Homo sapiens: one gene and its partners. The protein of the gene in region 3 interacts with the protein of the main gene of each other region in a pairwise test. Each region holds a gene or a part of one and is shown on either strand. Other genes may lie near its edges. The genes, in order: POGZ, POU6F2, ZNF410 and FAM9B.

Region 1 (7,033 bases), on a different chromosome or scaffold from region 3:
TATCCGACCCTAAATGTCAATAGTGCCAAGACTGAAAATCACTGATCAAACTGAATACATGTTCTGAAAACGAGGGCAATTAAAAAAAAATCATCCCACATTCTATACATAAAGAACTATCATTTCTTTTTAAAAATATTTGTCCTCTCAGGCCAGGCACAGTGGCTCACGCCTGTAATCCCAGCACTTTGGGAGGCCGAGGTGGGCGGATCACGAGGTCAGGAGATCAAGACCATCCTGGCTAACACGGTGAAACCCCGTCTCTATTAAAAATACAAAAAATTAGCCAGGCGTGGTGGCGGCCGCCTGTAATCCCAGCTACTCGGGAGGCTGGGGCAGGAGAATGGCATGAACCTGGGAGATGCAGCTTGCAGACTGCACCACTGCACTCCAGCCTGGGAGACAGTGCGAGACTCCGTCTCAAAAACTCTGCAAGAGAGCAGAACAAGGTTCTTATGAATTATTCAAATGGTTATATCTTGTATGTTAAAAATTTTTTTATAAAATCCATATATATCTAGTCTGTTTCATCCTATAATCACCTACCTGTGAAACTTGATTTTTTTTTTTTTTTTTTTTTTTTTTGAGACGGAGTCTTGCTCTGTCACCCAGGCTGCAGCGCAGAGGCACGATCTCGGCTCACTGCAACCTCCGCCTACCGGGTACAAGTAATTCTCCTGTTTCAGTCTCCCAAGTAGCTGGGACTACAGGTGCCCACCACCACGGCTGGCTAGTTTTTGTATTTTTAGTAGAGATGGGTTTTCACCATATTGGCCAGGCTGGTCTTGAACTCCTGACCTCAGGTGATCCACCTGCCTTGGCCTCCCCAAAGTGCTGGGATTACAAGTATGAGCCACAGCACCCAGCCAGGAACTTGATTTTATCTTCATATTCATCTGACAACTTTTAGGTCACAGGGTCTTTGTCGCCTGGGCTGTAGTGCAGTGGCGCGATCTCAACTCACTGCAGCCTCGACCTCTTGGGCTCAAGCAATCCTCCCGTCTCAGCCTCCCAAGTAGCTGGGACTACAGGCATGTGCTACCACGCCTGGTTAATTTTTGTATTTTCTATAAAGCTAGAGTTTTGCCATATTGCCCAGGCTGGTCTTGAACTTCAGGACTCAAGTGATCTGCTTGCCTTGGTCTCCCAAAGTGCTGGGTTTTACAGGCATGAGCAGTCGTGCCCAGCCTCCCCAGTTCTAAATTTTTTCTTGTTGTGGCCCCTTTACAATTCCTCTACAGGTTACTTTTGCTACATATAAACTCTTCTAGCTTCTTCAACTTTCAAATCATTTTTGCAGAGGGCAATGCCTCAAAGTGACAAAATGGAAACCTATTTCTATGTTCTTCCTCAAAAATCTTATTTATGGTTGAACTTAAAAGTTACAGTAGCTCTGTATCTCAAAAGCCAAAGGTTATGATTGTAATATGTTTAAATAGAAAAACCTTAGCCAGGACCGGTGCAGTGGCTCACGCCTGTAATCCCAGCACTTTGGGAGGCCGAGGTGGGTGGATCACTTGAGGTCAGGAGTTCAAAACCAGCCTGGCCATGACCATGACCAGAGATGTGGTGAAACCCCGTCTCTACTAAAAAAAAAAAATACAAAAATTAGCCAGGTGTGGTGGCACACGCCTGTAATCCCAGCTATTCAGGAGGCTGAGACAGGAGACTGCCTCAAAGGGAAAGAAAAAAGAAAAACATTAACCAATAAACTACTGACTAATAATTCACATTAGTTATCAGCTGTTTTGTCTATGGCATTTTTTTGCAAACAAATACACAAGAAAAGCCAAAAACAATGTATGAAGTATTACTGACAATAATATTTAACCTGAATCAAATCAATTATTTATTTATTTTATTTTTTTTTAAATTTTTTGAGATGGAGTTTCACTCTTGTTGCCCAGGCTGGAGCCCAATGGCGCGATCTCAGCTCACTGCAACCTTCACCTCCTGGGTGCAAGCGATTCTCTTGCTTCAGCCTCTCAAGGAGCTGTAATTACAGGCATGCGTTACCATGCCTGGCTCATTTTGTACTTTTAGTAGAGATGGGGTTTCATCATGTTGGTCAGGCTGGTCTTCAACTCCTGACCTCAGGTGATCCACCCGCCTCAGTCTCCCAAAGTGCTGGGATTACAGGTGTGAGGCACCGCGCCTGGCCCAAATCCATTATTTAAATGTAACTTTGCGTTTACAAGAAATACAGCAATAAAAGAACAAATTAAGTATCACCACAAAGAAATAATGAGATAAATCCAGAAGGTGGGACATTCTAGAAGGAAATAATCAAATGCAGAATATGGAACATTCTATAAAACTAATAGAAGTCTCTTTAAAAATGTCAATGTTCGGCTGGACGCGGTGGCTCACGCCTGTAATCCCAGCACTTTGGGAGGCCAAGGCAGGTGGATCACCTCAGATCAGGAGTTCGAGACCAGCCTGACCAATATGATGAAACCCAGTCTCTACTAAAAATACAAAAATTAGCCGGGCGTGGTGGTGGGCACCTGTAATCCCAGCTACTCAGGAGGCTGAGACAGGAGAATTGCTTGAACCCGGGAGGTGGAGGTTGCAGTGAGCCGAGATGGTGCAATTGCACTCCAGCCTGGGCAACAAGAGCAAGACTCCGTCTCAAAAAAAAAAAAAAAAAAAAAAAAAGTCAATGTTGGCCGGGCATGGTGGCAGGCCAAGGTGGTAGGATTGCTTAAGGTCAGGAGTTCAAGACCAATCTGGGAAACAGAACCGATCCCTCTAAAAAATTTTTAAACAGAAAGGATAATCATATTATATTCATGTAGGAGAATGTATTTATTCCTAGGAAATGCACAAAATATTTAATAGAAATATCTTGAAAGTGACTTTCAAGGGGTTAAGCAAATACATAGATATTTGGCTTTTTTTTTTGAGACAGGGTGTCATTCTATCCCCCAGGCTGGAGTGCAGTGGCACAATCACGGCTTATTGCAGCCTCAACCTCCTGGGCTCAGGTGATCCTCCTGCCTCAGCCTCCCAAGTAGTTGTCACTACAGGTGGGCTATTTTGATATTTTCTTATAGATACTAGTATGCCAACTTTCAAAAAATATTTGGCATGGGCCAAAACATTAAAAATCATCCTGTCACCAGGCGCAGTGGCTCACGCCTGTAATCCCAGCACTTTGGGAGGCCAATGCAGGCGGATCACAAGGACAGGAGTTCGAGACCAGCCTGGCCAACACAGTGAAACCCCGTCTCTACTAAAAATACAAAAATTAGCCATGCGTGGTGGCTGGTGCCTGCAGTCCCAGCTACTCGGAAGGCTGAGGCAGGATAATCGCTTGAATTCGGGAGGCAGAGGTTGCAGTGAGCCAAGATTGTGCCACTGCACTCTAGTCTAGGCAACAGAGCGAGACTCTGTCTTAAAAAAAAAAAGTCACTCTGTCTAGGTGGTGGATAGTTTAAGTGTTCCTTGTAGAATTCTTTCACCCTTTTCTTTTTTCTTCTTTTTGTGATGGAGTCTCGCTCAGTTGCCCAGGCTGGAGTGATCTTGGCTCACTGCAACCTCCACCTCCCAGGTTCAAGTGATTTTCCTGCCTCAGCCTCCTGAGTAGCTGGGATTACATGCATGCGCCACAACGCCCAGCTAATTTTTGTATTTTTAGTAGAGACAGGTTTCACCATGTTGGTCAGGCTGGTCTTGAACTCCTGACCTTGTGATCCGCCCATCTTGGCCTCCCAAAGTGCTTCGGTTACAGGTGTGAGCCACTGCGCCCAGCCTCTTTCTCCCTTTTCGCATGCGTGAAATTTTCTTAATAAAAACTGAGGTGGGGTAGGAGGGAGTGGAACTACCTACTCATATCTTAGCTGTGATATTCTGTACTGCTACATTCCACCTATCTCTTTGGTATTTACTAAATAACTGGTAGCCTTGTTGGTTGAATTTCTTGATTTATTCCCAGGACCAATTTTCATGTAGCTTGTATATATACATTTCTCTTTTTTTATTTTTATGCATCCATTTTCACTTAATATACATTTCTTAAGACATAGCAAAATAGTTAAATAAGAAATAACAAATTAAGGTGGATTATGTAGGCTACCAAGGAGGTACATTACTTTCTTCCATTAATCCATTATTTGACATCTTGGTAACCTAGGTGGTTTCTCTATTTTGTAGTAATTGTAACATGATTTTTTTGTGCACTCAATAGGTTTTACTTAACACTGCAGGCTCACACAGAACTATTAGCAATACTCAGTCTCTTGTCTCATCCTTCAATCCATAATATGGGAGTACCAGATAAATACTCTCCTGGAGGGAAGGGGACTATTTCTTAAATGCTGGCGAATATGGTAGTCTATACTAAGGCCCTATATGATCAGCTAGTCAATAAAAGTCTATATAATTGTAAAGGCAAGATAAAAACAGACCTTTTAAAACAATATACTATTTAAAAGCAGCAAAAAGAATCCTGCAGATACACCTGTATACTTTTAAGGTATTTAATGGGCAGCAAATGTTGCCTATCTTCATCTCAAAGAAAATGAGAAAAAGATCTGTTTTCCACAACTATCCTGACATACTTGGTTCTTGAAAGCTCTGAATTCCTTTGTCTTGTTCTTTCATAGCTGTAAAGTCCAGAAATGAAGAATGAAGAATTCAGAAATGAAGAATTTGGTATCTAACGTTTTCAACTTACTGCCAGTACATACCTGCCCAAAAATCAACATAAAAAGAACATTTGGAACAGGAAAAATATTTTACAGAAAACAAACATTTTAAGAATACCACTTTCTTGTTCCAGGGTGAAAAATAAACAATGATAATCCTCAACATAACTGGTAATTATGTTTTCAAGTTACCTCAATTTTTGGCTCTAAAAAGGACTAATACCAGAAAACCTATAGGGCTGAATACTTAATCTGTGTATAAAACTATAGTTAAACATGTAATAAGCTTTTATTTATCCAGTCTTTTGCACAGCCCATTTTGTCCCTCACAACATCTGTTATAGTACCTCATATGTAAGAATCATAAGGGTTTTAAGTAGTCTTAATAACCTAAAATTTCCAAACTCAAAATACTTTCCTCTTGTCTGGTAGCCAATCCTGTATCAAGAAACACCCAAATATTTAGTTCTGTGCTCTTTACTAAAACAAGTAAGCAACAAGTTCTCTTCTTTAAAGGGGTTCAATATTCAGGAGTCCCTTTCCCAAGAAAAATATCTATACTATGATGGAAAACTTTTCTTCAATGACAGCTGTGTGTTGCCTAAATTCCATTTCTATGCTTTCAATTTCTTTTAACTCTGCTAACACCTAGCAATAGGTTAGTGTCTCTTTTCTGCTCTCCTCCCCTTGGTTACATATAAAAATACGTTTTTCAGTTGGGCGTGGTGGCTCACGCCTGTAATCCCAGCACTTTGGGAGGCCAAGGCGGGTCGATCAAGAGGTCAGGAGTTTGAGACCAGCCTGATCAATATGGTGAAACCCCATCTCTAGAAAAATACAAAAATTACCCAGGTGTGGTGGCGCGTGCCTGTAATCCCAGCTACTGAGGAAGCTGAAGGAGGAGAATCGCTTGAACCCAGGAGGCGGAGGGTGCAGTGAGCCGAGATTGCGCCATTACGCTCCAGCCTGGGCAATAGAGCGAGACTCCATCTCAAAAAAAAAAAAAAGACAAGTTTTTGTGAATATGGCTTAATATCACAAACAAGAATACCAAAGAATCTATCAAAATGTTACCATATTGATATTATGGCAAAGGCATTAACCAGCTCTAGGATTTGTAATCAACCAGCTCTAAAGTTTTTATTTTACAGATAAGGTCAAAACAGTGGTTTAGAGAGACGAAGTAACTTCCTCAAGGTTACAGTTAGTAAATATCCCAGTTAGGATTCAAAGCAAGCTTTTTTTGCTTTAGAATTCTTCCCCAGGTCACTGCCTCTTCCATCAACTTCAACTATTTATAAATTCTCCCAAGTTCCCCAAGGGAGTTAGATTTGAATGATGTAAAGAGCAGAAACATAGGACTGACTGAATGATTCTCATTTTTTTGACTCTTAAAATTATTGAAGACGCCAAAGATCTTTTGTTTATGTGAATTTTATCTTTCCACATTTACCACAAATTTTTAAAATGTAGTATTTATCAATGTATTTTAAGACAAGCCCATTATAAGTTAACATAAATAACATTTCAACAAAAAATACTTTCCCTCCAAAAAGTGAGAAAAGTAACGTTGTTTTGCATTTTGCAAATCTCTTTTATGTCTAACTTGATAAAAGATGGTTGGATTCTCACAGTTACTTCTGCATTCAGTCTGTTGCTATATGTAGCTTTGGTTAAGTATATAATGAAAATCTAGTCGGAAAAGGGAGAAGTATTTTAATAACCTTTTCAGATAACTGTGTTTGGTAAATACTAAAACTCAACAAACGGTAGTTTCTTTCTTTTTTTTTTTTTTTTTTTTTTTTAATAAATAGAGACAGGGTCTCACTATGCTGACCAGGCTCAACTCCAACTCCTGGGCTCACACAATCCTTCCACCTTGGCCTCCCAAAGTGCTGGGATTACAGGAGTGAGCCACCACGCTAGGCCAAATAGTAGTTTCTTAAAGGACAGTTAACATTTTGGAATCTGAAACCACATCAATCCACTTTTTTACTGTTAAAATCCATTGCTATGTCTGGAATTTTCAAAGGATCTTTTGCCTTTGCTTGATTTTGCAACATCATGCATTGGTCATTTGCAAAGCCTAGATTTACTGAGTTATGCCCATCTTCCAAATAACATATTTCATTAAACAACATTTTAAAATATTGCAGTCCTTAACCACTGATATCATAAGGAAAGTCTTTTAAGTACTAGGAAGCTGTCAAACTCCAGCTGTCAACTTTTTAAAAATTCTAATTTTCACCCAAATTTTATCACTGGTAATAAATACTGTCAGTTGTTTTCCTAAAAGTGACAAGCTCACTTCATTTTCAAGAAATATCTGCCAAATACTAAGTGTGAAAAACCATAGTCTGCTAGTCGTTCTTTCAAGTAAAAAT
Region 2 (5,226 bases), on a different chromosome or scaffold from region 3:
GAGTTGTTTGCATGCCTATGATATGTTATGATAGCTCATGCATCCTGCTGTCTCTGCTTCTCATCACCCCTGTCTGTGCACCTGTGTGGTTTGCATGGTCTGGCATGGAGCACGCTGGGAGGGTGGGCGCTGGCTTGGGCAGGGCTGGCTACCTTGCAGCTGGCTATTAACCTGCAGTAAATTCGCCCTGCCAGGCAGTCAGGCAGGCAGGCAGGAGGCCCACCCTGGCAGAGGACTCAGTGTAAGACTGTTCTTTCTCAATTTTCCCCCCCAGACACACCATCCTGAGAAGCCACTTTTTCCTACCACAGGAAGCCCAAGAGAACACTATAGCTAGCAGTCTGACAGCCAAACTGAACCCTGGCCTTTTGTATCCTGCCAGGTTTGAAAAGCTGGACATCACCCCTAAAAGTGCCCAGAAGATCAAGCCGGTGCTTGAGCGGTGGATGGCTGAGGCTGAGGCCCGCCATCGAGCAGGTATGCAGAACCTGACCGAGTTTATCGGGAGTGAACCATCCAAAAAGCGCAAGCGGCGCACCTCCTTCACACCCCAGGCCCTTGAGATCCTCAATGCCCACTTTGAGAAGAACACACACCCTTCTGGGCAGGAAATGACCGAAATTGCTGAGAAGCTGAACTATGACCGAGAAGTAGTTAGAGTTTGGTTCTGCAATAAGAGGCAAGCCCTGAAGAACACAATTAAACGCTTAAAACAGCACGAGCCGGCCACGGCAGTCCCTTTGGAGCCCTTAACAGACTCTCTGGAAGAAAACTCCTAAAGAGATGCCCACCCATAATCAGAAGCAAAATTCACAGAAACTAAACTCCACCCTTGGGACTCCACAACAACAACAACAACAAAATTTAATTTAATTTAAAAATAGCCCCAGTCGTCATCACCCTTGTAAGTAAATGACTAAGAAAACTACCAAGTGGACAGAATGGTTTCTACATGTCCGTTGGTTTTCCAAAAAGGAAAGAAGAAAATTTTTAGAAAATTTTTAAACAAGGAATACACCACACTGAAGGTGTGTGTGGTAGGATAGTTCCCTTCCCCCACCTGTCTCCCCCAAAGCCAGTTTTTTAATGGACTTAAAGCAAACCAAATAACCACGTACTTTTTTCTGTATATTATGAAAATGTGAACACATTTTAAGGAAAAAGAAAAAAAAAAACTAAACCAAAAACCAACAACGAAGGAACAAAAACTTTGATCTGTTCAAAGCGAATACAAGCCTGCCACCTGGAGGAAGGACTGCACCCCTTCAGGTACTAAGTGCTGATTCACTATGAAACCTATTAACCAAAGTCAGAAACATGGCATTGCAACGCGATCGTTCGTCTACGCTTCTCCGCACGTAAAGTTGTGTTACGAATTTTTACATTTGTACTAACAGAACAATAGGAAGCCTGATTTCTCCCATCTTTCCCATCTACTGTCTCCACCCATGGGGTGGGTACCATTGTTGAAGCCATTCTGTGAGGCTCACTATTGGGTTTTTTTGTGGGGGTGGTAGGGAGGGTGGTCTTTTTTCTTTGTCTTTCTTTTTGACGGGAGGGCATCCTGGATCGTGTGCCAAAGCATTTGTTGCTTTTTTCTCACTATGACTTGTGGGTTTGAGAAAAGAAAATGGAGCTCGCATTTCTCTCTTTTCCTCCATTTCTCCATCTCCCTCGCGCGTGGCTCCTGGGGTCTGCTGGAAGGCCACAGAAGTGGGGAGAAGCAGTGTCTTTTCCACTCAGATCCTAGTGAAATGCAGGAGAGACTCCAAAATAACTAGGGCTTTGCTCGATGAACTGTCAACACTGGCATAAGCTGTAATTGTGCTCACTGTCCACACCAGAGCTTGGGATTTTTCTCAGTCTGTTGGCCACGTACATGGAGAGCTGACCAAAACTAATTTTGTAATATAAACATAAGCTGCACATTTGGTTCAATACTTACATCTATGTTATGCTTCTGTGCAAAGCAATTTCTCTCAGAAGTCTGATAGCCAAAGAAATGTCTCAAGATTTCAGTCAAATACACACATGACATGCACACACCCATAAACACACACACAAAGAAACAGGCTAAAAAGAAAGTGATAGCAACTGGATCATTAAAGGCCATCGTGTATCCTGTTAATCTCATCTTTTCTGCTACTTCTTTCATTCCAATAGCGATGGCAGACTTTTTTCAGGGGGAATAATTACTCTTCGGGATATATAAATGGAGCAGAAAGGTGGCGGGCAAATTTAAACAACTGGAATTGGGGGCCAGGTTCTTCAGGGGAAAGGAAGTTTGAAGAAGCTTTCACCAAAAGAAAAAAATATAGAAGGGGCTTATCTAACAATCAGAATAGCCTGCAATATGAGAACTAGAGGATTATTTCCTTTAAAAAAAATAACTTAAAAGATCTGTGGGCCACAATAACCTAATAAGCAAGGACATGTTGGGATGTGAGGACGGCTGTGCAGGTGAGCACTTGGCAGCTGCCACTGGTGTTTTCACCCAGGTACAGGCAGACGGTGTTCCATTAAAGGAGCAGGCAAAAGAGAGCTGTCAATTTGCTTGCTGTTGAAATGTACATATTTATGCATAATTTATAATCATGCTAATGTATTATCTAGAAGTAAGTTGTGAAAGAAAAAAGAGAAACCCAATCTCAAGTTGCCCAACTGATTAGAAATGCCATCTCCTTCCCCTAATACACTCCCTCTCCCTGGGGAGTTTGAGTTTCTTCTGTTGGCTCCTTTGCTGTTTGTGTAAATGCTACAGTATAATTGTCCCCTCCAATGATTCATGCAGCAATCAAGAGACTACCAGCAAGGAAACTCTAAAAGGAATCCTGGAAGTGGAACAAGTCACTCGTAAAGGTGTTTCCATTTTACCAGTCAATGCTAACTGGACCACAGCTAACTTGATCTTCAATGCCAACATCACAGAGCCCCTTTCGCCACCTCAAAAACTGCACAAACATGGACAACCCAGAAACCCAAAACTTTATTGATTAAAACAGATTTTGGATTCTCCTAGGACCTGCTCCAAATTCCATCAAGAAAAGCTCCCTGCGAAGAGAAGTTAACAAGATAACATATGATGGATGCTAAATATTTAAATATATGCCGGCAGCGGTTACATAAGGCCTGCTCAGTTCTGAGATCTATAATTGGGAGGGTCTAACTAGGACAGGGAAAATATAAAATAAAAGTAATCTTCCAGAGTGGAACAAAAAAGAAATATATTCATCCGACAGTCGTAACACCATTCATGTGCAGTGATTTTTTTATAGTTTTATAATTTTGTATTGTTTTATAAATTATTTATAAGGTGTTGTAATGCTTCTTATATTAATTTTTTACAGATAAATTTTTTGCTACAAGGCATAAAAAGGTGCCTGAACCGATTCTTAGGAATATAAATTATACTGTGTAACTCATAAGTCTTTGGGACCACACCTAATGCTTAATTTTATGATGACATTTCTCATGTCTACTTGTAAACAACTTCATATGCCAATGGCGTTTAAGTGTCTTTTATGTTTCCATGAACTGAAGGTTAAGGTTGCCACCCACAAAAAATAAAAGCCACTTTGGGCATATGTGATTGTATTTCAAGCTTCAGTATTTTTCTCACATAATTTTTAATTATTGTTATCTGCATTTTCATTACTTCATGAAAAAATGACAGTGGATATTACATTTTACACTTGTTTATAGATTTTCTTTCTTTTTCAACCAAGAAAATATTTTGAACAATTGAAACTTTTAATTGCATTTGCAAGGTTTTGGCTTCTTTATGTTGTCATCACACAGATGCACACACACATACACATACAACACAAAAGAGAGAACAAAAAAGCAAAAGGAGCTAGGAAAAAAACAAAACAAAACAAGTAGAGGTGTATCAAAGAACTCAAGCTATAACCAAAAAGAAATCGTAAAATGCCTTTGCTCGTTTCTCTACGCTGGACCAAAGCTCAATATTTGTAGGTATATGCACATTGTATAGATATGGCTAAATGTTGCTGACAATCTCGCAATACTAAACTGTTCCTATTTTAAGAAAAAAAAAAGAAATACAAACTGTTCATCAATGTTTTACCTCAGCACTCTACTTGTACCCAGTTAATGACCAAGCTTAAAAAAAAATTGAGATAAAGGAAATTGATTTTCATTTCAATGTTTGACTGTAAAATCTGTTTGGATAACATTTTGTAATGAGCTTTTTGTCATGTGATTTGCTTGTCTTCAACTTGAAATTATGTGAGGCACATTTGTTTATTTGTTGTTAAGAAAGTGATTTTTTTTTTTTTTTGTCCTATGTGCTGTGATCTAGACTGGTCACCGGGGTCACTTATGAGGCACCACAAAGAGATCTGCTTCTCCGTGCCCGGAGCAGGCAGCAGGAGGGAGGGCAGGAAACAGGACTGGGTTGCTTTGGAAAAATCATCATGACAAGAAGTTGACATGATAGACTTGTGACCAAGAAGCCAAACTGAATATTTAAAAGCTCCTTACTTGCTCTGACATTGAAACCAAAGCTGATTTTATCTGCACAGGTTGCTTAATATTTAAAAAAAAAAAAAACTGTACTTAATCTAGAGCAATATCTGTATGGTCAGTAAAGCTGCACTTTGTGTATTTCTTAACAGCTTCAGATCTGTCACTTTTAATTTGTACCATAAAAAATAAATAATTGTTTGACATGAGCTTCTAGGCTAAGTGTGTCTCACACTCAGATATGTCATTTAAGTTGTCAGCATTTTAAAAACTGTACATTAAAACCCCAAATGTTAAGGAAAGGAAGGGGTTCAAGACAGATTGGTTAATATCATGATTATTTTAACTTTTCAAATGACATATTGTATTCATTGGGACTCTTTTGGTTGCAAGTTATAGGAATTCAACTGAAACTTGCCTACACATAAAGGTACTGTGTTGTTTGACTTAATGGGAAGTTCCGTTGTGGACCTGAAGCACAGCTGGATTCAGTGGTTTCAAAGATGTCATCAGCCTGTCCTGCTTGGCTTCCTTCTCAGATGGATTCTCTAACCATTGACTCTAAGGCTTTGAATCATTGCGCCCTTCTCTAAACTAAGCACTGGTGCTGCGGGGTGATGCACATAAATTCATGGTCACAGGCTCATTCCTGTCTGTGGGGGGAGGGTGGGGCCTCACTCTGACGACCCTGTGGGACCACAAGGATTGAAAGAGGAGTACACATAAGAACCGGAAGACAAA
Region 3 (7,033 bases):
CAACATGGTGAAACCCTGTCTCTACTAAAAATACAAAAAAATTAGCTGGGCGTGGTGGCACGCACCTGTAGTAGCAGCTACTCAGGAGGCTGAGGCAGGAGAATCGCTTGAACCTGGGAGGCAGAGGTTGCAGTGAGCCGAGAACGCACCACTGCACTCCAGCCTGGGCAACGGAGCGAGACTCTGTCTCAAAAAAAAAAAGAAAAGAAAAGAGGAGAAAAGACGGAAGAGCACCATAAAAACTAATGTAATACTGAAAGGATCCAAGCTACAGAGGTTTTGACAAAAGTTTATGCATATGAAATGTGCTCGTGATGAAGTCATCCACTCCCATGACACAAGACCAGTGAAATATCCCAAGATTTTAAAACACTGACCACTTTGCATTCTGTTTCCTGAGTCAAAGCCAAACTACAGAGTTGAAAGTGCTTTAGCTCAACCTCAAACCCTTTTTGTTTAGATCAGAAGTCACCAACCCCCAGGCCATGGACCAGCACTGGTCCGTGCCCTGTTAGGAACCAGGCCACACAGCAGGAGGTGAGCAGCAGGTGAGCAAGCATTACCACCTGAGCTCCACCTCTCCTGTCAGATCAGCAGCAGCAACAGATTCTCATAGGAGCGCAAACCCTATTGTGAACTGTGTATTTGAGGGATCTAGGTTGCGCACTCCTTATCAGAATCTAATGCCTGATGACCTGAGGTGAAACGAAACCGGTCCCTGGTGCCAAAAAGGCTGGAGACCATTGATTTAGGTAATGGTTCTCACTTAGCAAGCAAGTGAACAAATCTGTATATGCCCATTTGGTTAAGCCTGGTATCTCCCAGACATATGACCATAGCAGAATGAACAATAATTATGTTTAATGATTTTGTTACTACCTTTTTTGCTGAGGGACTTTTTCCAGGATGTTATTTCTGGAGAAAAGAAAGGGATCTCTAGGAAATACTTGCTCCTGTCTGGTACAGAAATTTCACCCAATTTACACAGGCCAGGCCCTCTTCTCTGAATAACTTAACAGGTGAGGTCAACATGCATTTATTCAGTGCCTGCTGTGTGCTTTTATAAAATAAAAGCTGTATCATGTTATAGTGTGGCAGAGAATAGTGGGAACAGACATCAACAAGGAATGTATATAAAAGAACTTTAAAGCCGGGAGTCCCAGCTGTGACAGACCAATCTCCAATTCATTAAGACCCTAACCCTCAGGCTCCTTTCAAGCTGAACTCATGCTTAATTTAAAGGAAAATATTCGTGCCAAAGTTTCCAGGAAATGGAAACTGGAGACTTTTTCAGGTCCTCTAAATTCTCAATCATTCCCCACATGAATTGTCACAGAAACAAAGGGCAAGAGACCACTTTACCTCTTGTGGATTTACTGCAGTTAAGACAGAAACTTCATATGATTGCCTCCCTGACTGCATGGTCACCAGGTGATGTGTCACATCAGGCACTGAAGACAGGGAACGTGGGGATCCTTCAGCAAGCACCTCTGTGAAGCAACAGAAAAATGTTTCAATGAAAAGTGAATCCAGAGATACACCTATCTGGATCATTAAGCCTCTCATTAACAACTCTAAAACTCTATTCCTCTATTTCCCACATTCCTCTATTTCTTCCAAGTTAATCCTGTCTGATAAGCATTATCAGTGAATTTGGAAAGTAATATAAAAAGAGAATAGAAAGGCAAGAAATCTTAATACAGGATTTAGAATAATATGGTGTTAGCACTTTTAACTGAATTAAAACTATGTATGAAACAGGCAAAAGTCTTAGGCAAGCAGGTAAGGGAACCAAAGCCACCCTTAAAAGCAGTCGCCAATGATACTAATAGCACTTACTAACTGAATATGATATGAGTAACAAAAACATAGGGTCTCACAGTTACTAAATGTTCATCAGTGGGATCACCATGAAAATCTTCTGGAAATAGTTTATGGATATACCACTTAGCCCTCAAAAAACTAGAAGTTTCTTCTAGGGGTTTTCTAGATTATACAACTATTTTATGCTGTACCATATAATTTAATGTTGGCTTATATACTATCTTTTATGTACTCAATGTTCTTTCCCATATATATGTAAGCTTTCACTTCTCAACTGGATTTTAAGGTCCCTATCTTCTACTTTTGTCTTTCCCATGGTGCCAGGCACACAGTAGGCACTGAATAAATGCATGCTGACCTCACCTGTTAAGTTTTTCAGAGAAGAGGGCCTGGCCTGTGTAACTTGGGTGAAATTTCTATACCAGAGAGGAGCAAGTGTTTCCTAGAGAGCCCTTTCTTTTCTCCAGAAGATATGGCTTTTGAAGGTATGGAGAAATTGCTTTATATCTCCTCTGTAAAACCTGGTTATGTTCTGTTTAAATGTTCTAAAAGTTAAGTTCTTCCATAACTGCAATAGGAAAGATAGAAATAGTTGGGCTAGGATGCTAGGATTAGGAATAATTTTTTCTTAAGAATTTTTTCTTTTTATTCTTTTATTATATTATCTTCAATGAAAAAAAATTTTTTTTTAAACAGATTGACTAATCCACCCCAGAGAATAAGAACACAAATGCTACTCATACCACAGCTACTCATAAGAAATGAGATTTAAACATACATTGTGGAGACACCCCATTCCTTAGCCCCTAGTTGCAGCCCATTTTTCCCAAATAAAGGAGAGTTGGAAGTCTTACCATCATCAACTCCCAGGATAGAATTGGTATTTGGTAGGTTCAAGGACTCTCCACCAAGGCTGGGCTGGGAATTCATAGACACCAGGTTTTTACTGGGTACTGAAGCCTCTTCAAGCAAACTACTGCCCATTAGTGGCTCAGCTGCACAGAGAATAGGTTGTGAGAGACATACAGCAATCAAGGCTGTGCCTGGTCCTCATTTTCTTTCAACAGAAGCTGGCCTTCTCTTTCATTACTAGAAGTTAACCTATAGATGGGATGCCACCCCCTATTTCACCTACTTTCGAGAAACAAGAATAAACCTAGAAGGGAAAGAGTAAGCCTTAGAAGATAATGATCCTTGCTTGTGTTCAGCGTCTGAAGAATTAGCATATGAAACAGGATAGGTGGATCTTTAGAAAGGAATATTTGGAATAATTAAGGAAAGATATGGCGAAGGAATAAGAATTAAAAAGAGTTATCAAATTTCAGGCAGGGCAAAAAGGTAGTCATGACTGGTAAATAAAATATGCTTCCAGCCTGGCCAACATGGTGAAACCCCGTCTCTACAAAAATATAAAAATCAGCCAGGTGTGGTGGCACCTGCCTATAATCCCAGCTACTCAAGAGGCTGAGGCAGGAAAACTGCTTGAACCCAGGAGGCAGAGGTTGCAGTGAGTCGAGATGGCGCCACTGCACTCCAGCCTGGGTGACAAAGCAAGACTCCATCTAAAAAAATTAAAAAGCTTAAACTCTTCCCATGTGGAAATCTTTTATCACTGTGTTACTCAAATGCTTGTTCATGGATCAGCACTAGTTACCATCAAACTCACTAGGGAAACTTTTAAAACTACAGATTCTAGGATCTTGCAAATTATCTCATTTATCAGATTGCTTTGTTTTATTGGTGGGCGGACAAGCAACAAAAAGTATATAAATTTTAAAAGGTTGCAGATGATTCTACTGTATAGCTATGTTTGGAAACCATCAGCCCATCAAATGAGACCAGGTCTATCTACCCAAAACAGAATCAGAAAATTTCCAGATAAGCAGGCAGGACAGTGATTTGGCTCTTGGAACCCTAGAAGTAGTACAGCGTTCCACTATGCCCACCCTCCTCACCAGTTTGCTCCTGCTCTTGACTCCCAGCTGCTCCCAGCTGCAGGTGATGCTTTCTCATATGCACATTCCTGCTTCCACTCTGAGAGAAGGTCTTCCCACAGACTTGGCACTGATGAGGCTTCTCTCCTGAAACAGGGACCAGGTTAAACAAGGAAGCCAAAAGGACAGGAAGAGAATGAACTCAAGACCTAGATGGAGAAACCCAGAGAATGTTAAACTGAACATAAGCAGCTGCTCCTTTTCCCATTCCGCACCTTCCCAGCCTCTCAAACTTCAGTATATGGGGGAAGGCAGGAAGAGTACACCAGGAGGGCTTTAGCACACTCCCTGCTCCCAGCTGCTGGTCCTTTCCAGACCTTCTGTAATGCTGCCTTCACAAAACCTCTTTGGTATAGGACCATGGCAACCACAAAAAATATGCCTTCTTTTTCAGTTAGTCTTCCATGGACCTCTAGGACATGTGCTTTCCTCAAGGATTTCAATCCTGTGTTCCTAATATCCCCTTGTCATATTCCCTGCCACCCTCTTTAGGGTCATCAACATTCACACTGGTGGCTCTTACAACATAATAATCTAAATTGTCCTCTATGTCTTCAAGTCCCAAACTCTCCGTCTCCATTCTACCTACCCAGAAAACCATACTTAGAGCAGGGGTCAAAAACTCATGTCTATAGGAGACTGATAGGTAGCAAAAGTAAGTAAAATGGCCAAGTGGGGGCTGCAGTAACCTAGAGAGTACCTAGAAAAGGGGCAGCTGTTATTCAGCTCTAGCCAACTGTTGCCATGGGTAGATTAAGGCAGATTCTCTGATTTTTTTTTAAGACACTGGAAATAAGGATTTTTAAGTAGAATCTCCCAATTTCTAAATGCTAGGAACAAATTCACAATTGACAAACACATGGTACAGCAATCATCATTGCTGATTGTATTTTGCTGGGAATGCAAAATACAAAAACCTCTTTGGGGGAATCTGACCAGATCTAGAAAAATTGTAGATGCACTTGCCCTTTGACCTAGGAATCCCACTTCTAGGAATATGTCCCAAAATTACAGCAGCAAAATGTGAAATACTCTGTGCACAAGGTTATTCATCACGGCAACATTATTTTAAATGGCTAAATACTGGAAACAACGTAAATATTCATCACAGAGACTGACTAAAAAGCTATAGATACTGCAGTAGTCCTGCATAGCAAAAAAAAAAAAAAAAAAAAAAAAACCTATACAATAGAAACAGGGTGGAATATTACAAAGCTTAGAACTAAAAACTGAATCACCATTTGAACCAGCAATCCCATTACTGGCTATCTACCCAAAGGAAAATAAACTGCTCTACCAAAAAGACACTTGCCCTCACATGTTCAATGCAGCACTATTCACAACAGCAAAGACATGGAATCAACCCAGGTGCCCATCAATGGTAAATACGATACAGAAAATGTGGCACATACACACCATGAAATACTATGCAGCCATAAAAAAGAACAAAATCATGTCCTCTGCAGCAACATGGATGCAGCTGGAGGCCATTATCTTAAGCAAATTAACACAGAAACAGAAAATCAAACACCATGTTCTCACTTATAAGCGGGAGCTAAACACTGGGTACTTATGGACACAAAGATGGGAACAATAAACACTGGGGATTCCAAAAGCGGCTACGGGGCAAGGGCTGAAAAACTACCTATCAGGTACTATGTTCACTGCTTGGTCAACAGGGTCATTAGTAGCCCAAACTTCAGCATCTTGGAATATACCCTTGTAACAAACCTGCACATGTACCCCCTGAATCTAAAATAAATTTATTTTAGCCAGGTGCAGTGGTTCACACATGTAATCCCAGCACTTTGGGAGGCCGAGGCGGGCAGATTACTTGAGGTCAGGAGATCAAGACCAGCCCGGCCAACATAGTGAAACCGCATCTCTACAAAAATTAGCTAGGCGTGGTGGCGGGCGCATATAATCCCAGCTGCTTGGGAGGTTGAGGCAGGAGAATTGCTTGAACCCAGGAGGTGGAAGTTGCAGTGAGCCAAGATCATGCCACTGCACTCTAGCCTGAGCCAGAGTGAGACTCTGTCAAAAAAAAAAAAAAAAAAAAAAAAAAAAAAGGCCGGGCACGGTGGCTTACTCCTGTAATCCAGGCACTTTGGGAGGCTGAGGCGGGAGGATCACGAGGTCAGGAGATCAAGACCATCCTGGCTAACACGGTGAAACCCCATCTCTACTAAAAATACAAAAAGGTAGCCGGGCGTGGTGGCGGGCGCCTGTAGTCCCAGCTACTCGGTACGCTGAGGCAGAAGAATGGCGTGAACCGAGGAGGCAGAGCTTGCAGTGAGCCGACATCACGCCACTGCACTCCAGCCTGGGAGACAGCAAGACTCCGTTTAGGGGAAAAAAAAAAAAAAAAAAAAAAAAAAAAGGCCATATGAAATGTCCAGAACAGGCAAATCCAGACACAGAAAGCAGATTAATGGTTGCCAGGGGCTGGAGAAAGAGAGACATGGTCAATGATACTAATAATGGGACTTCTTTTTCTTTTTTTAATCATCTCCTGGATATGGGGATCCTTTTTGGGATGATGAAATGTTGTGGAGTCGGACAGTAGAGAAAACTGTAAAACTATGAATATATAGTTGGCCATCCACATCCATTGATTCAACCAAGCAGATAAAAAATATTCAGAAAAAATAAAAATAAAAAATAACAGGCCAGGCGCAGTGGCTCATGCCTGTAATCCTAGTACTTTGGGAGGCCAAGGCAGGTAGATCACTTGAGGTCAGGAGTTCCAAGACCTGGCCAACATGGTGAAACCCTGTCTCTACTAAAAATATAAAAATTAGCCAGGCACATGCCTGTAATCTCAGCTACTTGGGAGGCTGAGGCAGGAGCATCACTTGAACCCAGGAGGTGGAAGTTTCATTGAGCCAAGATCGTGGACCACTGCACTCCAGCCTGGGCAACAGAGCGAGACTCCATCTAAAAAAATAAATAAATAAAAAATAACAATATAGCAATAAAAAATACAAATAACCAATATAGCATAACTATTCACATAGCATTTACGTTGTATTAGGTACTATCAGTAATCTAGAGATGATTTAAAGCATATGGGAGGATATGTGTAGGTTATATGCAAATACCATGCCATTTTATGTAAGAGACTTGAGTATTTGTGGATTTTGGTATCTGTGGGGTCCTGGAACCTATACACCACAGATAACAAGGGATAATTATATTACTACTAAAAATCACTT
Region 4 (7,033 bases), on a different chromosome or scaffold from region 3:
TTACATGTAAAAACATGTACATCTTTTTAACATGTTACATGCAAAAAATCTTTTTACATGTTTGTTATATGTTGTTACATGTGAAAACTGCACATTAAAAAAAGGAAAGGCAGGCGAATTCATCATTCAAGTTTTTAGATGTCCATATAAACTTCCACATAATCCACGAATATTAAACTGGATAAACAAAGCACTCTACAAAATTTACCTTGCCACAGATGTGAAATAATTGTAAGCATACATAAATGTTAACAAAATGCTTTCATTCAATTCTAAGGGGAGGTATCATTGAATGATGGACCAAAACAAACTAAATAGCATTTTGATGTCTGTGGAAATGACATACCCACAAACCAGTGGCTCAGCACTGATATTAATATATCTTGCTCAGTTGCCTTAATCATTTACAGCAGTATAATTTTTTTTAAGAACACAGACAGTAAGGTGCTTTTAATAATTTTGATATGGCCATAGAGTATATCTATTTTTTGAAGTCCTACTTTCATTGGAATTGCCTCTTTATCCTAATGAGTAAATACAAAAGAACGCACAGATAAGATAGCTTTTGTCTTCTTCTTCTTGTTTTCTGAGAAAGAGTCTTGCTCTGTCGCCCAGGCTGGAGTGCAGTGGCACAATCTTGGCTTACTGCAACCTCCAACTCCCGGGTTCAAGAGATCCTCCTGCCTCAGCTTCCTGAGTAGCTGGAACTACACGTGCGTGCCACCACGCCCGGGTAATTTTGGTATTTTTAGCAGAGATGGGGTTTCACCATGTTGGCCAGGCTGGTCTCAAACTCCTGACCTCAAGTGATCCACTCCCCTCGGCCTCCCAAAGTGCTGGGATTACAGGCGTGAGCCACCACACCCAGCAGATATTGTCTTCTTTTATTAGAGAAAAATGTACTTTTCTATGCCTGTGCTTTCTACATTTTTGGAACTGATACAAATCCACAGAGGCCAAATCGAAATCTAAATTATCTTTAATGTTAAAATTTAATTGACCGTGTACATAACTATGCAATCCCTGCTTTCTCACAGAAGTGTCTAGGATTCATTCAACAGATCATAGAAACGAGGTCTGGCATTTAACAGACGAGTGACAGAGGAGCTATACCGATTTATACAACAATTATCAAAACACTGTCATGTAGTTTACTGTAGCTCAAGTTGTGCTTGTATCATATAACATAGGTTCAAGTTCTTTCTTCAGTCATCAGAATAACAGAGGTTGAAGAGACAACTGGGTAAGTGCCAACTTTTCCAAAAGCTGTTTCAAAAAAAAATTTAAGTAACTGTAATACACATTTCTGCAAATAAAATATTCCAGTGCTACATCAATCCTGAGTTTTTAATATTAAATATGCACTACTTACAGTTCTGACATGATTTTATTTAAAAACATGTCTAGTTATCAAGTTCACTGTCTTCATCGGAAAAAACTCTGTCACAAAGGTCTTCAAAGTCCTCAAGAGCCTAAAAGAAAAAGTCTAGTTCACTGACAAACCACCACTTTATATCTCGCATTTTAAACAGGGTTAATTAAATGTCAAAAGGAAACAGCTTTTAATATTCAAAGGATGCCAGTTATTCATTTCAAATAGAAAAAACTATAATCAATACATGGAGCTCCAAATACCCAATTAAATTTTTTAATGCCAGATTTCAGTGACATATTATTTTAGCAGGTCTAACAGTCATGTACTTTGCTTAAATAAAATGGGTTGAAGAACATCTTAAGGTCAAGATGGAGCGAAGACAGAAAAAGACGGGCAGGCTTATATCATGAAATATTATATTTTTTTTCAGCAGGTAGCGACCCATGTATTATCAGCAATAGCCTACATAACATGGTTTCCATTGAAGGGATAAAATGGTTGGTGATATGACCTCATCAAGTTAGAGAAAACGTAACTGTGTTTGAAATATATACTCTTTACTCAACAAATAGTTCAACAGTTCCTACTCCCTAAAATGTTGTAGGTTAATGCTGAGGAAGATGTAAAAAATGAATACACAATCTTCCGTATTTCTATGACATGAGCAAATGCACAAATAAAAAACAAGTAATACAAAACTTGTGTAACTGCTATGGAAGGGCAACTCACTCGGGCATGTAGCCAAAAATGGAGACTGATGTTGATTTAGTTGGCGAAAGGTTTCAATCAGTCAAAAAAAGATTTTAAAAGTATTGTGAGGGAAGAGCATGAGCAAAGCATGGGAGTAACGGTGAGTTCCTTCAGGGAAGGCGGTCAACCTGGAGAAGTGGGAGGAAAGACAGAAGGCGGCAAAACAAGCCTAAGAGGGGGTCATGTAAAGGGGAGAGTCTCTGAATATCTAAGAACTGAGACGGGGCATCACTGACAGGCTGGGAAGACGGAAGGGCTGGGAAGCATTTTAGGAAGGGAAGGGTTTTAGAAAGATAATATTGCCAATCAATGAAGGATGGCTCAGAAGAGAAGAGAGAACTCAGAAAAGAGTTTAATAGTACAGGTAAGGAAGAATGAGGTCTTGGACTAGGGTAGCCGCAGTGGGAATTTAAAGAAAGAAATTAAAGGACCATTGCAGAGGTAAAACTTGCCTCGTGATAACTACATGGGAAGGATAATGAACTCAGAAGAGTCCAAGATGATAGCAAAGTTCCTAACCTAAGTGGTAACATGAAACATTAATACTGACAGGAAAACTACTAGTCTCATGTTCATACCAATTAATAAATGGTATCTGGAGAACATTATAGCAACATGTTCTCTACTTGTAACTTCTATTTAAATAACTGTTTGTGTATAGATAATCCTCAAGTTGCTTGAAAATTTTATTTTCAAACTCTTTTCCCAGTTTATTTAACACATCTCAGTTAGTGTAGAGAAGTGACATATGAACATGTCTTTTCCAAGGTTATTAAAAAGAATACCAGATCTCCCCAAAAAAGATTCCACTGCTTCCTAAATTATCTACATCTACATGAAGAAGAGGTCATTGTCTGATGATAATTTGCTAATGTGCTGTACAACAGCAGATAATTCGCAATTCACAACGTGTTAATAATCTGCTGGCTTTCCCATTCTGTTATACATCTGAACCATCTCTTATGATTACAAATTGTCATGTAGAACCATTACTAATAATTTTGTAAGTGAATATGCCATAAAACACTCCTGTGTTTCAGCAAGAAATAAAAAAGACACACAGTAGTTACGCTTGCCTACTTCCTATTTAACTAAAACTCTTGAAACAACACAAGTAAAAAAGCCATCCAGAAAGGATTTATGGACCTCTTGCCTTCCACCATAGATTTGTCATTGATGTCCTGAAAACTGAAAATAAAATCTTCATTAAAACCCATTTATGCCTAGTGTTCCATTATTGGAACGCTAAGCTTGTGGGAATCATATATATCCTACTGCTCAAGGTCATGGCCAAGGTCTGATTTTTCACACACAAAAAAAATTTGCAACCTCTGGCATAAATAGGTTAATGTGTTAATAAAGTGTCAATTTTATACATAAGATGTGTATTTCTAGGTAAAATTTCCAATTTACCTTTTCCTGTTCTAAATAACTCCCACAAACTATTCATGAATCCTAAAAATACATTTACCAATTATATTATATCTGGAACAATACATTCAAAGTGAAAATGCTAAGTAATTTGAAATGTATAATCAAATGTCTTTCCATACATTCAGAAACAAGCAGACTGTCTTCTATTATGCACGTGTTGTATTTTATAATGTATTATGTTACCAAATAGAACAGACCTTTACGAATTGGTCACGTAGCAGCTTCATCTCTTTCAGCCTCTCTCTCCTAACACTTCTATATTGTTGCCACTTCTTCTGTTGTTCTTGAAATATTCTCTAGAATCCCAAAACAAAATAGTGATAAAAATTGGGTAAATTTTAATACTTACAAAACATAATTCTGCATTAGCTTTAAAGGAATACTGTTTAAATCAATACCTCTGAACACTTTCTTTTAGACAACATTTAGGACCAATTTTAAACAATTGTGTTCACCAATAACATGCTAAAATGATGTATTAACCTTTTTTATCAGTCATTAAGTAAAGAATTTTCTTACTTTTACACATTCAACACATATGTCCTAATTCTTGATTTCCAATGAAGAGTATTTGATGAACCTTCCTATAATTTGTTGACCACAGATAGGTAAGATCTATACAGAAATTAACTAAGAAAAATTCTTTCTAAGATTTTAAGCATGTATTAAATCTCGGTCATTTCAATATGCACATAGATGAACCACCCAATAATGATTGCCTTTCTGCACCCTGACCTAATCTCCAACAACAGTGTTCTCCTCTCCTCTACGTGGCACTCACTCACACAGTCATCCCCTAGATTTTGTCATTCCCAATGACTTCAACACCTACGTAATATTAATAATAGCAATGATAAAGAGCAACCATGGGTCAGATCACATCCTGAAAAACTTAAATAAACCTGTTACACAGAAACCCTTTGATCCTCCAAACAACTCTGACGTAGGTACTCTTACCATGTCTCCTTTCGTAGATAAGATAATTTGCCCATGGTTTCCGAGCTAGCAATGGTCAAGCTGAGATAAATAATTTTTCCATGGTTTCCGAGCTAGCAATGGTCAAGCTAGAATCCCAAGCAGTGTGGATGCATAGTCCCAGCCCTTGACCACTGCACTCAGCTGTTTCTCCAACTTCCCAACATACAGCCACTACCTCCCTGCCATCGTAGGTCACTCACTTCAGTACTACAGCTCAGGAGTCTGTTGGGACCTGACACCCACTGAATGGAGCACTTTTTACTGCCCATTGCCCACTCCCGTGTGCTCAGATAACTCAGTCCCAGCTGAAATTCCACAGCCAGTCATCATATCCCCATCTCTGCATCTATTCCCTGCCCAACTCTCCCTCTATCAATCTGCTCGGCTACACCCCGACCCAGGAAATTCCAACCCTACAGCTGTGCTTGCACAAATATGCCAACTGGGCTTACTTTAACTTCTTCATCGTTATGATGCTGACTTCAGTTGGACCCCTAATGCTGCGTGGCAATTATATTCCCCTAGTCCATTAGTCCACTAACGGGCCCCCCTCTCTGGGCTCATGCGCTCTTCCTTCTTTGCTGGATTTCTGCATGAACTATTACTACCTGAGACACTGACATAACAGGTTATACATAAAGCTAAGCATGATACCAACAATTAGTTCTTCCTCTTCTCCCTCTTCTTCTTCTTCCTCTTTCTGCTCGTCTGTGATGTATTCTTCAAGGACATTTAGCAACTTCAGAGAATGTATATAATCACGTTTCTGCCTGTAACACATAATAAGTAACACGGTCATACGTCATAGAGAGATGAAAAATTAATCCTATTCAAACCCAAACTGACTTGACATAATTTATACTATAAAGTAGCAAGGGAGTAATAGCAGCTGAAATCTTCTTTTTGGAAAAAAGTGAAATGAGTTACTCTCATTTTGAAAGGATTCTTTTCTTCCTGACTACTAGAGCAGCTATCTTACATTCTTTACCTGCTGAAGACAAAGGAGGGTTTACTGCACTATAACTTTCCCAGAAACATTTTCTCTAAGAGCAGTTTACTTTCCATTTCCTCTTACTGAATAACATATGGGTTCTCATAAGTAGGTTCAAGAATATCATAGCCATTCATCCCATAAGATTTCCCAAAAGAAAAACTTCACTTAACTATTTCTCCACTTTGGCACACCAATGATTTTGTAAAAGAAATAGTGAAAACAATTTAACTAAAATAGATAACTTATTTACAACATAAGGTTATCCCTTTCTACATAATTGAGTATCGTTAAGGATCTACAGACTAAACATTGAGAACATTTATCTTATATGCAGCTACCATATTTCTAGAAATGGATAAACATTAATTTTACAAGAAGGCTATTTTTATCTGGAAGGCAAAAAGAGGTCATCTTCATTGGCTTCTAGGTAATATCTCTTAATTCTGTTAAACTGAGGTTATAAAACTAAAGAAACTTACCTACTTAGAGAACAATCAAGTAAAATATGTTGTTCACTAGAGACGCCAATATGTACAGGATAGTTTTTGAAATTATTTGCACCAACTAATACAAAGAAATGATATAAATATCATTATGCAAAAAAGCCAACAGTCATACCTTTTAAGTTGCTTTTTTCTCAAAGCATGTTTACTTTTGTTCTTTGTTTTGCTGCAAGTTTTATCCATTTTCATCCTTTTTCTTTTTGCAGTAAGATCCTCTTTAATGTCAGTTAGATAGTAAATGAAAATGGATTAAAAGTTAATGTTGAAAAGTAGTTTCTTTGCATATACTGACATCAATATGGGACTTTATGGTTCAGCAATTTCAGAAGGATATTTAAAATATAAAATGCAAAGATCATTTCAAAAAGCAAGATTTACTCACTTATTTTCTGTAAAACCTTTCAGGTATTAACATTCGCATTTCAATTCCAGTTGGTATAACTGAAAATCACTTAATTGACAGATGATGAAAAAAAGCAAATAATTAAAAGTCTCTATTTTTTAAATGTGCAGAAAGAGTTATAAGCACAGACTTTAATTTCTACATTTATAAAATGTCCTACAATTCAAAGGAGATGCTTCCATGAAATACTGCACAATTCATTACGTAAAGCACACAAAAAAGTATCTTATATAATAGAACCCTCAAAAGGGTAGAAATAACTTAATGCACAATAAGAAAAGCATTTTTAAGCAATCTAGTGATTGATGCTATTAACTGTATTTTAATAAAAGAAGCAATGGCCATGAGTATAAAAATTTAGGTTTAGGTAAAGAAATACATTCAAAAACACTTTTGAAATGTTTTCTTGGAGCTTTTTATGACATTTGTACCCATAGTGCTGTGTTTCAGAAAACTGTAATACTGCAAGGAATGCTTTCCTAAACATGATTTCACATCAGAGCTCTACCATCAATTGCTAAGAATAATTTTCAGCAATCATAAAAGATTTGTACCACAATGCAAATATTTTTTACATACAGTCTCCATCTATAATG

The links.
Region 1: the proteins of ZNF410 (region 3) and POGZ interact in binary tests that used the Homo sapiens proteins (3 or more experiments, as listed by UniProt).
Region 2: the proteins of ZNF410 (region 3) and POU6F2 interact in binary tests that used the Homo sapiens proteins (3 or more experiments, as listed by UniProt).
Region 4: the proteins of ZNF410 (region 3) and FAM9B interact in binary tests that used the Homo sapiens proteins (3 or more experiments, as listed by UniProt).

Annotation. Positions count from the first base shown.
Region 1 is NC_000001.11:151,449,465-151,456,497, forward strand, and holds part of POGZ (pogo transposable element with ZNF domain), read right to left. Parts: intron 5,439-7,033; exon of another isoform or gene 4,563-5,438; intron 1,485-4,562; exon of another isoform or gene 1,446-1,484; intron 1-1,445. UniProt on the Homo sapiens protein: Plays a role in mitotic cell cycle progression and is involved in kinetochore assembly and mitotic sister chromatid cohesion.
Region 2 is NC_000007.14:39,463,908-39,469,133, forward strand, and holds the end of POU6F2 (POU domain, class 6, transcription factor 2), read left to right. Parts: intron 1-274; coding exon 275-779; 3' UTR 780-4,694; downstream 4,695-5,226. UniProt on the Homo sapiens protein: Probable transcription factor likely to be involved in early steps in the differentiation of amacrine and ganglion cells. Recognizes and binds to the DNA sequence 5'-ATGCAAAT-3'. Isoform 1 does not bind DNA.
Region 3 is NC_000014.9:73,917,852-73,924,884, reverse strand, and holds part of ZNF410 (zinc finger protein 410), read right to left. Parts: intron 3,906-7,033; coding exon 3,780-3,905; intron 2,820-3,779; coding exon 2,679-2,819; intron 2,187-2,678; exon of another isoform or gene 2,149-2,186; intron 1,491-2,148; coding exon 1,363-1,490; intron 184-1,362; coding exon of another isoform or gene 82-183; exon of another isoform or gene 66-81; intron 1-65. UniProt on the Homo sapiens protein: Transcription factor that binds to the sequence motif 5'-CATCCCATAATA-3', and is specifically required to silence expression of fetal hemoglobin in adult erythroid cells.
Region 4 is NC_000023.11:9,024,112-9,031,144, forward strand, and holds the end of FAM9B (protein FAM9B), read right to left. Parts: intron 6,486-7,033; coding exon of another isoform or gene 6,457-6,485; exon of another isoform or gene 6,250-6,456; coding exon 6,150-6,249; intron 5,308-6,149; coding exon 5,196-5,307; intron 3,856-5,195; coding exon 3,757-3,855; intron 1,473-3,756; coding exon 1,404-1,472; 3' UTR 1,373-1,403; intron 1,267-1,372; 3' UTR 121-1,266; downstream 1-120. UniProt on the Homo sapiens protein: May play a role in meiosis.